2 separate regions of the Homo sapiens genome follow, and region 2 is linked to region 1. The links come from fine-mapping of genetic effects on gene expression. A gene starts in region 1. The other region holds a variant in brackets. All regions are shown on one strand. Distances are between the middles of the regions. Region 1 holds the start of OLFML2B (olfactomedin like 2B). Region 2 overlaps OLFML2B (olfactomedin like 2B).

Region 1 (4,386 bases):
TGCCCTCTTGAATTTATAGTCTGGTGGGGAAGACAGGCACCCCCAAAACAACCCACAAAGGAGGAATATAAATATCCATCTCTCCTGCTTCTATGAAAAAGAGGTACATGGTATTATGGGAGCATTTAATAGAGAAATTATGCTGGTGGTGGAGTCAAGGAAGGCTGCCCTGAGAAGTGAGCAGCCATCTGAAATATGAATATGCACATTCAGGATTATGTCTTTGCCCAGAATGCTCTCTTTCTCTCCCCTGCCATGGCCCCCCCTCCCATCATGTTGCCTTATCCACTGTTTTGTTGAAACCTCCCATCATCCCAGTCATCTTCAGTATCATGCTTTCATGAAATCCACACTGACCTTTCCACTAGAAGTGACCTATTCCTTATTTAAACCCCATGAGATATGTTCTTACTCTGCCTCACAATTTCAGTGCTTGTTCTGCTTACCTCCTGACTCCCACGCCCACTTTGTAAGATGTGGACTATCTCATCTTCCCATTAAATGTCTAGCAACCTAGCTTGTTGTCTTGCACTTAATCAACATTCAATGCTTACTGTAATTGATTTTTTTTTTTTTTTTGAGACCAAGTATTGCTCTGTAGCCCAGGCTATAGTGCAGTGGCGGATCTCGGCTCACTGTAACCTCTGCCTCCAGGGTTCAAGCGATTCTTCTGCCTCAGCCTCTAGAGTAGCTGGGATTACAGGTGCATGCCACCAGGCTAGGCTAATTTTTGTATTTTCAGTAGAGATTACAGGGGTGAGCCACCACACTCCGCCCCTTAACTGAATTTTAAAACTACACTTTATCGGTGGGGCACAGTGGCTCACCCCTGTAATCCCAGTGCTTTGGGAGGGCAAGGCGGATGGATGGCTTGAGGCCAGGAGGTCGAGACCAGCCTGGCAACACGGCGAAACCCCAACTCTAGTAAAAATACAAAAAATTAAACGGGCATGGTGGCGTGCGCCTGTAATCCCAGGTACTCTGAAGGTCGAGGCACGAGAATCACTTGAACCCAGGAGGCGGAGGTTGCAGTGAGCCAAGATCATCCCGCCACTGCACTCCAGCCTGGGTGGCAGAGCAAGACTCTGTCTCAAACAAACAATCAAATACACCACATTTTATCAATGTTTACCCCCATATAGTTTCAGAAAAGATTTGATAGCTTACACAGAGGAGGGTGTGTGCATGATGTCCCCACAAACCTAGACACCCAGAGCATTGAATTTTTGTCCATAAACTGAATTTTTTGAAGATTAAAATATACTAATAAGGGTTATTATTATACTTATGTCAACTATTACTTATATGCGCTAGTTTCCTTAGTTTATTACAACCCTTATTCCTCAGCATAAGAAGCAAGGTGTTTGAATTTCCCAAGGGTGCATAATATCCTTTGAAGGGGCCTGGCTCTGTTCAATATTCCGAGTGACAGTTGTCCAGGATGGCACAGTGCCCTTCCTTAAATTCACATATTGGTAATCTTCACTGTAGGTTTATAAAAGGTTGTCCTCAGTAATTGAGGGACATAGTAACATAATTGCACACTATTGAAAGTGGACTCCCTCTTAGAGATAATCTGGTAACAGAGACCCGGAGATTTGTCCCAAACCAGGAAGACAGGAAGAGCTGTTCCCTTTGGTAATCATTTATCAGGCAGTAGCTTTCCCCATGGGGACTCGCGGAGAGTGTCGGAGATGTACAGTCATTCCCCTAACTTTCAACGTTTACACAACTCAGGACACACTCTAGGAAGGAATTCAATGATTTTCCTCTGGGTGGAGGTATTACTAGGTTCTAAAGCCGTGGCAGGCAAGCAGCTACCAACGGCGCTAAGTTCAAAGCTGCCCGAGAACTCGCCCAGAGTTAAGTCAGGGAAAAGAAACGCCTGGGAACAAACGCGCCTTCTCCCCTGCCCCAGGTGTGCTAAAGGACGATGCCGCAGATCCCTAACTAGCTCAGCCTTGGAGCGAGCGCTGGGTGCCTGCGATGGAAAGTCGCTCTTCTCGCCAAGAATGGTCGAACCCCAAAACTTCAGGGACGCCGCTCGGAGTAACTTCTCTTCACTCACTTGCGATCAGATGAGAAGAAAGTAAAGCCCTTCCAACGTCACCCTCAGCCGGCGCGCGGCAGCTGAGTCCCAGCGGGGACGGGGTCCGCCGGGTACCCCTCCGCCCGAGCCCTGTGCGCTTCCAGGTCCTCCTCCTCCGCGCGGTCACTGGCTGCATCTCCGCCGCCCCGGCACAATAGAGGCTCCGCCCTCCTTCCGCGCGAGCTCTCCGCGGCTCCCTAGCCCAGCAGCCCTCGCCCAGCAGCCCGCGCCGCCACCGCCTCTTCCCTCCCCGTGTCCGGTCCCCGTGCGTCCCGAGGCTCCCCGCCGCCCGTCCCGGCGCGCACCGCGGGCGTCTGTCCGAACGCCTTCCAGCCACCTGAGCCCTCCTGCGGGCGACTCGCTCAGCTAGCCCGTGCCCGCCTCCACCTTCTCCGTCATCCCCTCTTCCTTGCGTCCGGCTCTCCACTGGGGCTGCACAGTCGAGGGCTGCTCGCGTCGGGAAGGAGATGCCCAGAGTCTCTGGGGCGCACCCTCCCGTCCCGCTCAGCCGCACCCAGCTTTAGAAGGTGCTCTCAGCAGCCACTTTCGGGCTCTAGCGAGGACACCCTCTCGCAGAAGTCCTTGCCGAGACCCCCCGCCCCAGCCATTCTCTGAAGGGGCTGAGGACACTCTTATCGCGCCCCTCATGGCCAAGCCTCGGCTGCTAGTTCTCTACTTCGCTCTGATTGTGGTTCCGGCCTGGGTGTCCAGCATTGTCCTCACAGGGACAAGCGAGCCCCCAGATGCGCAGACAGTGGCGCCTGCGGAGGACGAGACTCTGCAAAACGAGGCGGACAACCAGGAGAACGTTTTATCTCAGGTAGGATGCAGAGTGCCACGACCGCCCTTCTTGCCCTGGATGGTGGTGAGAGCCAGAAGCTGGTCCTTGCTGAAGTGTTTGAGGGCAGCTGTTTTTCCTTCCATTACCAATGGAAAGGGCTTTTGATTTTTCATGTATCGGAATATTTTCTTAATGGAAGGATATAGGTTCTCCTCGCAAAATCATAGGGTGCTTAAAGGTCATCAAATCAGGAGAAAGGAGAGGTGAAGGAAGGGAAGATGCCGCTCGACTTCTTGAGAAGAAAGAAAACAAAGTTGTTTTTGGTTTCAGGGTTGTAAAAAGTATCTCTTGTCTATGTGGCTGTCTGTCAGAATTGGAATGTGAAAACAGCCGGATATGTTGACCAGGAGGCAGATGGCATATCCCATCGGGAGATACTTTATGGCAGAGGGTGGGACACCAGGCGGGAGCATGGGGTGAAGTCAGAACAGAAGCATGTGTGATGAATGTGAGGTGACCCCCAAACAGAGAGACTGAGAACATGACGGAGTGTACTGGGAGGGGAGAGTGGGAATGCAGATGCAGGCAGCTAGGGCAGACTGTCAGTGGGGGCCCGAGTAACCCATGATAGTGATGGGCTTCGTAAAGTGTCCGTTTACCAAGTACTTAAACTTGTTTTTTCTGACTCAATCTTCAAAACACCCTAATACCCATTTATAGATAAAGACCATAAGAGATACATGGGTAGGCCGGGCGCGGTGGCTCACGCCTGTAATCCCAGCACTTTGGGAGGCCGAGGCGGGCAGATCACGAGGTCAGGAGTTCAAGAGCAGCCTGGCCAATATGATGAAACCCCATCTCTACTAAAAATACCAAAATTAGCCAGGCGTGGTGGCAGGCACCTGTAGTCCCAGCTACTCAGGAGGCTGAGGCAGGAGAATCGCTTGAACCCGGGAGGTGGAGGTTGCAGTAAGCGGAGATCGCGCCACTGCACTCCATCCTGAGTGACAGAGTGAGACTCCGTCTCAAAAAAAAAAAAAAAAAAAAAAAAGAAGAGATACATGGGTAGAGCCAGGGCGTCTGACAGTCTTCAGCCCAGATCTCATGTCTGTAAGGGGTAGTTCTCTCTGGAGTGTTTATTTTGTGCTCTCCAGAGCCGGCATGATGACGTGTGGTGGGTGTCACCAGAATCCTCAGAATGGGGGATGTCTGAAAAAGGATCCTCCAGGGCTGCCTGTACCTTCACCTCCACCAAGCCCTAGGACTGGGCCTTGTCTCCTTCCTGTAGAGAGAATAATCAGCTGCACTTTGGGATTTATCAAACACTAGCCTCCTCACTCTTCCTTTAATAATGATGCTAATGTATGCCCTCTGCCCCCCCATTACCTCCCACTGACCCCTAAATCGAAAAGACATAAAAATCTCTCACACTGGGGCTCTGGAACACTATCAACAAAAACTTTCCTGAAACCCGAGCCTCCTGTAAGGAAGGAATCCACCCAGGGTTCTCAGAGCA
Region 2 (4,386 bases), 41 kb after region 1:
GAGCTGAATGGAATAGAATAGAATAGTTCTCCAGAGGAGGGCATGATGTCATAAAAGGACTCTGGATCTTAGGTCTTTGAAGGATAGGACTGAGAAGTCAGAACAGGAGCAAAGCATAGTGGTGTGAAAGTTGCCAAAGATGGGCATGGTGGAGGCTCAAGTGTAGGGTCAAGTGTAGGGTGGATCAGGGGAGTAGCAGGAGATGGTGTGGAAAAATGTTTGGGGTCAGGTTATACAGGGCTGTTAAAGCCTGCCGAGGAGTCCAGACTCTAAATGGATGAACAGCAAAGGTTTAAGGGGTGAGGCATCACTAGATCAGCCCAAAACCTCCATCCACCTCTTCTCCACCAGGAAGGTGCAAGGACACTCTCTCCACAATCACGGGGCCGACCACCCAGAACACATATGGGCGGAATGAAGGGGCCTGGATGAAGGACCCCCTGGCCAAGGATGAGCGGATTTACGTAACCAACTATTACTACGGCAACACCCTGGTAGAGTTCCGGAACCTGGAGAACTTCAAACAAGGTACATGATAAAGATCCAACCCAGACTGCTCCTTCCCTTCCCCACGTCCTCTGTTTTTATCACAGCCAGGCCTCTTTGGGTGGTAATGACGGATAGGAAGGATGACACCTTCTTCTGATGGCTAAAGGACCTTTCCTTGGAGAGCGGTCCCCCTTCCCCACTCCCTCACATTCTCTGCCTCTCAGCTCTGCCCCTCCTCCTGAGCTCCTGGGACATGGAAAAACCTCCGAGTCCAGAAGACAGGCTCCCTTTCCCATAGCCCTTGACAATTTATGAACCACATTCATGTATATTAGCTCCCCGGATCCTTGAAACAGGCAGATGGGAATTGTCACTTCCCTATGACAGATAAGGACACTGAGGCACGGACAGGTTGAGTGATGTGCTACAGGATGCTAGAAAGTGGCAGAGCCAAGACACAAACCTGGGTTTCCAGACCCCTCGTTGATCATCACTCACTTAACCACATGGGCTGCCCACCCTCTGCCATGCCACTCTGAAGCCTCCTGTTTTCTCCCCACCTGCAGGTCGCTGGAGCAATTCCTACAAGCTCCCGTACAGCTGGATCGGCACAGGCCACGTGGTATACAATGGCGCCTTCTACTACAATCGCGCCTTCACCCGCAACATCATCAAGTACGACCTGAAGCAGCGCTACGTGGCTGCCTGGGCCATGCTGCATGACGTGGCCTACGAGGAGGCCACCCCCTGGCGATGGCAGGGCCACTCAGACGTGGACTTTGCTGTGGACGAGAATGGCCTATGGCTCATCTACCCGGCCCTGGACGATGAGGGCTTCAGCCAGGAGGTCATTGTCCTGAGCAAGCTCAATGCCGCGGACCTGAGCACACAGAAGGAGACCACATGGCGCACGGGGCTCCGGAGGAATTTCTACGGCAACTGCTTCGTCATCTGTGGGGTGCTGTATGCCGTGGATAGCTACAACCAGCGGAATGCCAACATCTCCTACGCTTTCGACACCCACACCAACACACAGATCGTCCCCAGGCTGCTGTTCGAGAATGAGTATTCCTATACGACCCAGATAGACTACAACCCCAAGGACCGCCTGCTCTATGCCTGGGACAATGGCCACCAGGTCACTTACCATGTCATCTTTGCCTACTGACACCCTTGTCCCCACAAGCAGAAGCACAGAGGGGTCACTAGCACCTTGTGTGTATGTGTGTGCGCGCACGTGTGTGTAGGTGGGTATGTGTTGTTTAAAAATATATATTATTTTGTATAATATTGCAAATGTAAAATGACAATTTGGGTCTATTTTTTTATATGGATTGTAGATCAATCCATACGTGTATGTGCTGGTCTCATCCTCCCCAGTTTATATTTTTGTGCAAATGAACTTCTCCTTTTGACCAGTAACCACCTTCCTTCAAGCCTTCAGCCCCTCCAGCTCCAAGTCTCAGATCTCGACCATTGAAAAGGTTTCTTCATCTGGGTCTTGCAGGAGGCAGGCAACACCAGGAGCAGAAATGAAAGAGGCAAGAAAGAAGTGCTATGTGGCGAGAAAAAAAGTTTTAATGTATTGGAGAAGTTTTAAAAAACCCAGAAAAACGC[T/C]TTTTTTTTTTAATAAAGAAGAAATTTAAAATCATCCCCCAGTGCACTTTTGTTCAGCACCGATATGTCTGGCCAGGTGTTGGATCCCGCTCCCGGAAGGAGACGAGGTCTGGTGTTCCTCAGAAATGTTCTCTAGCTGAAGTGGCCTGCGTCCAAGTTCAGTTCCTAGGAGCTCCTCCTCCCCTCCTGATAGGGGCTTCCTGGTGGGGGATTTGGAATGAGCGACCCCCGTGTTCTCTTTAATTTTGTGGCATTGATCTCTTCATTTTTCTGTCACACTGGCTTCCTTGCTCTGTTCTGCTACTCCTCTGATCACTTCACCCAAGGTTGGGGAACCCGTTCATTCATTAGCCCTGCTTCTCGAGGTCTGGTCTTAGGCACTGTTGAAAATACAAAACTGAGTGAGTGCGACCTTGTTCCCACACTTCCTTAAGAAGTTCTCAATCAATCCATCTCTCTCCCCTTCTCTCCTTCTGCCCATAACCCTGTCTGCCTTTTCCTGAACAAGCTCATTCGGCCAGGCTTTCCCTCCCACCTTCCCTTCCAGGAAAGGGGCCCCTTTCTGAAACAAGGTCCTTGAGGGAAGCACTTGAGGGATGGGGAAGAACTGCAGCCCCTCCCGGTGCAGGGCTGAGCCCTGTGCAGTGCCTGCTGTCCACAAGTGTGATTTTTTTCCTCCACATTACACAAAACAGGAGATAGAACATCTGAAAAAGCCTGAACAGGCATCTCCTGAGGTTATGAAGGAGGGCAGGACCCAGGGATGCCGCAGGGAGATCAGCACAGCTCTCCTGTTGCAGCTCCCCTCAGCCTCCTCCCGACCCCTCTGTAGGCGGCCTCACTTCCTGACCCCAAGTTAGAGGGTCACACCAGGGAGCACCCCCGCTGTGTAGAGAACAAGGTGGGGGGCCATGAGGAACAGCCCTCCAGGGAGGCCGGCTGCAGCTTGTCTGGGTGAATCAATTGGTTTTAGAGCCAAACTGCCCACTCAGGCCAGGTGAGGACACTTCTCAGGTTCCTCCCACATGCCGGAAGGAGGAAGCAGAGGCAGGGGTAACCGCAGGCCTGAAGCTGGGTGGTCGTTAATGTTTTCCCTGAGCACAACATCCAGGACTTCTTCAAGCAGCTTTCTTTTGTGGGGTTAAACTTTGGAAACACCAAGACTTAAACACCAAGATTTAAACAAAGAATGAGTTTCTCCAAAGCCTAAAGAGCAGAATCATGACCAGGCTATGCTCCACCTGCTGCCGCCTAGGGCAAGACCTGAGACCCGCAGCCCCACCCTTCTGGGCCTCTGCCCTCACCTGTAAAATGAGGGGGTGTTTCCCAGCCCTCAGACTTGCTGGCTGAGTCTTCTCCAGCTCTATAATACCTCGTCAAACTTAGAGCATTTTAATTGCTTGATACTGATGGGAAATATATTTATTTTTTTTCCTGTTAAAAGACTTCCCAACAGTATATTTCAAAAGTAGAGAAAAAATTCCTAACAATTTATCCTTTCATTCTTTTTACATTCATTGATTTATGTGTACATTTATTCATTCAGTAAATATTTATGGAGCCCTGACTGGGGATGGGAGTAAATAACACAAAGTCCCTGCCCTCCTGAAGCTTATATTCTAGACAGGGAGAGAGAAAAAGAAATACATTACGTGTAATGTGACAGGTGACAATAAAATAAAGCAGGGAAAGATGGGAAGGGAGGGGGTTGAAGTTTACAAGAACAGGTCCGAGAAAGCCATCTGATCAGGGGATATGGAGCAGAAACGGAAGGCAGAGGGGTTGAGCGAATCTCAGACCTGAAGGCTGTGGGCAAGCAGACAGTAGGGAGCTAGAGGCCTGAAGGGGCCCCACGGGCACCCCAAGTGAGGCTGGTGGAAGCACCTGCAACCAACCCAGCACCCTGGGCAGGAACAAGGTGCATTCTGCTGTCGCTCGGCATCCAACACAGTTGAGCACAGCTGGGTGATGGTGCGCAGGCCTTCTTCCTGCCTGCTTCCTTCCCCACCGTGAAGATGGGTGTTTGATGGAGAAGACCATCTCCAGGGGCTGGGTCTTAGTCCCAGCTCTCCAACTTGGCATTTGTGAAACCTTGGATAAGACCTCTCTGAGCCTGTCTGCCGTCTGTAAAAAGGACCACATTCTGTCTGCAAGAAGGGTAGATTCATGAAGATTCAAGTAAAGCAAGGCAAGTAAAAGAGTGTAAAACACTGGCCGTTATCACGGTCTAAAGTGAAATTCCTTAACTTGATTTCCCAAACCAGCTCCGCCTTTGGCATT

What was found. PIP is the estimated chance that this variant, and not a neighbour inherited with it, causes the effect.
Region 2: its variant is the best candidate, but not a certain one, in a credible set for the expression of OLFML2B in lung (TOPMed, PIP 0.81).

What each region holds. Positions count from the first base shown.
Region 1 is chr1:162,021,780-162,026,165 of GRCh38, reverse strand. It overlaps OLFML2B (olfactomedin like 2B), which reads left to right and starts at 2,297. Exons shown (of 8, transcript NM_015441.3): 1 at 2,297-2,909. The coding sequence starts at 2,736. RefSeq lists silencers at 1,673-1,967, 2,036-2,185.
Region 2 is chr1:161,980,946-161,985,331 of GRCh38, reverse strand. It overlaps OLFML2B (olfactomedin like 2B), which reads left to right. Exons shown (of 8, transcript NM_015441.3): 7 at 352-528; 8 at 1,056-2,140. The coding sequence ends at 1,657. Among named protein-coding and RNA genes, the nearest start is that of OLFML2B, 41 kb to the left of the region's middle. The variant T/C (reference allele first, on the strand shown) is at 2,107.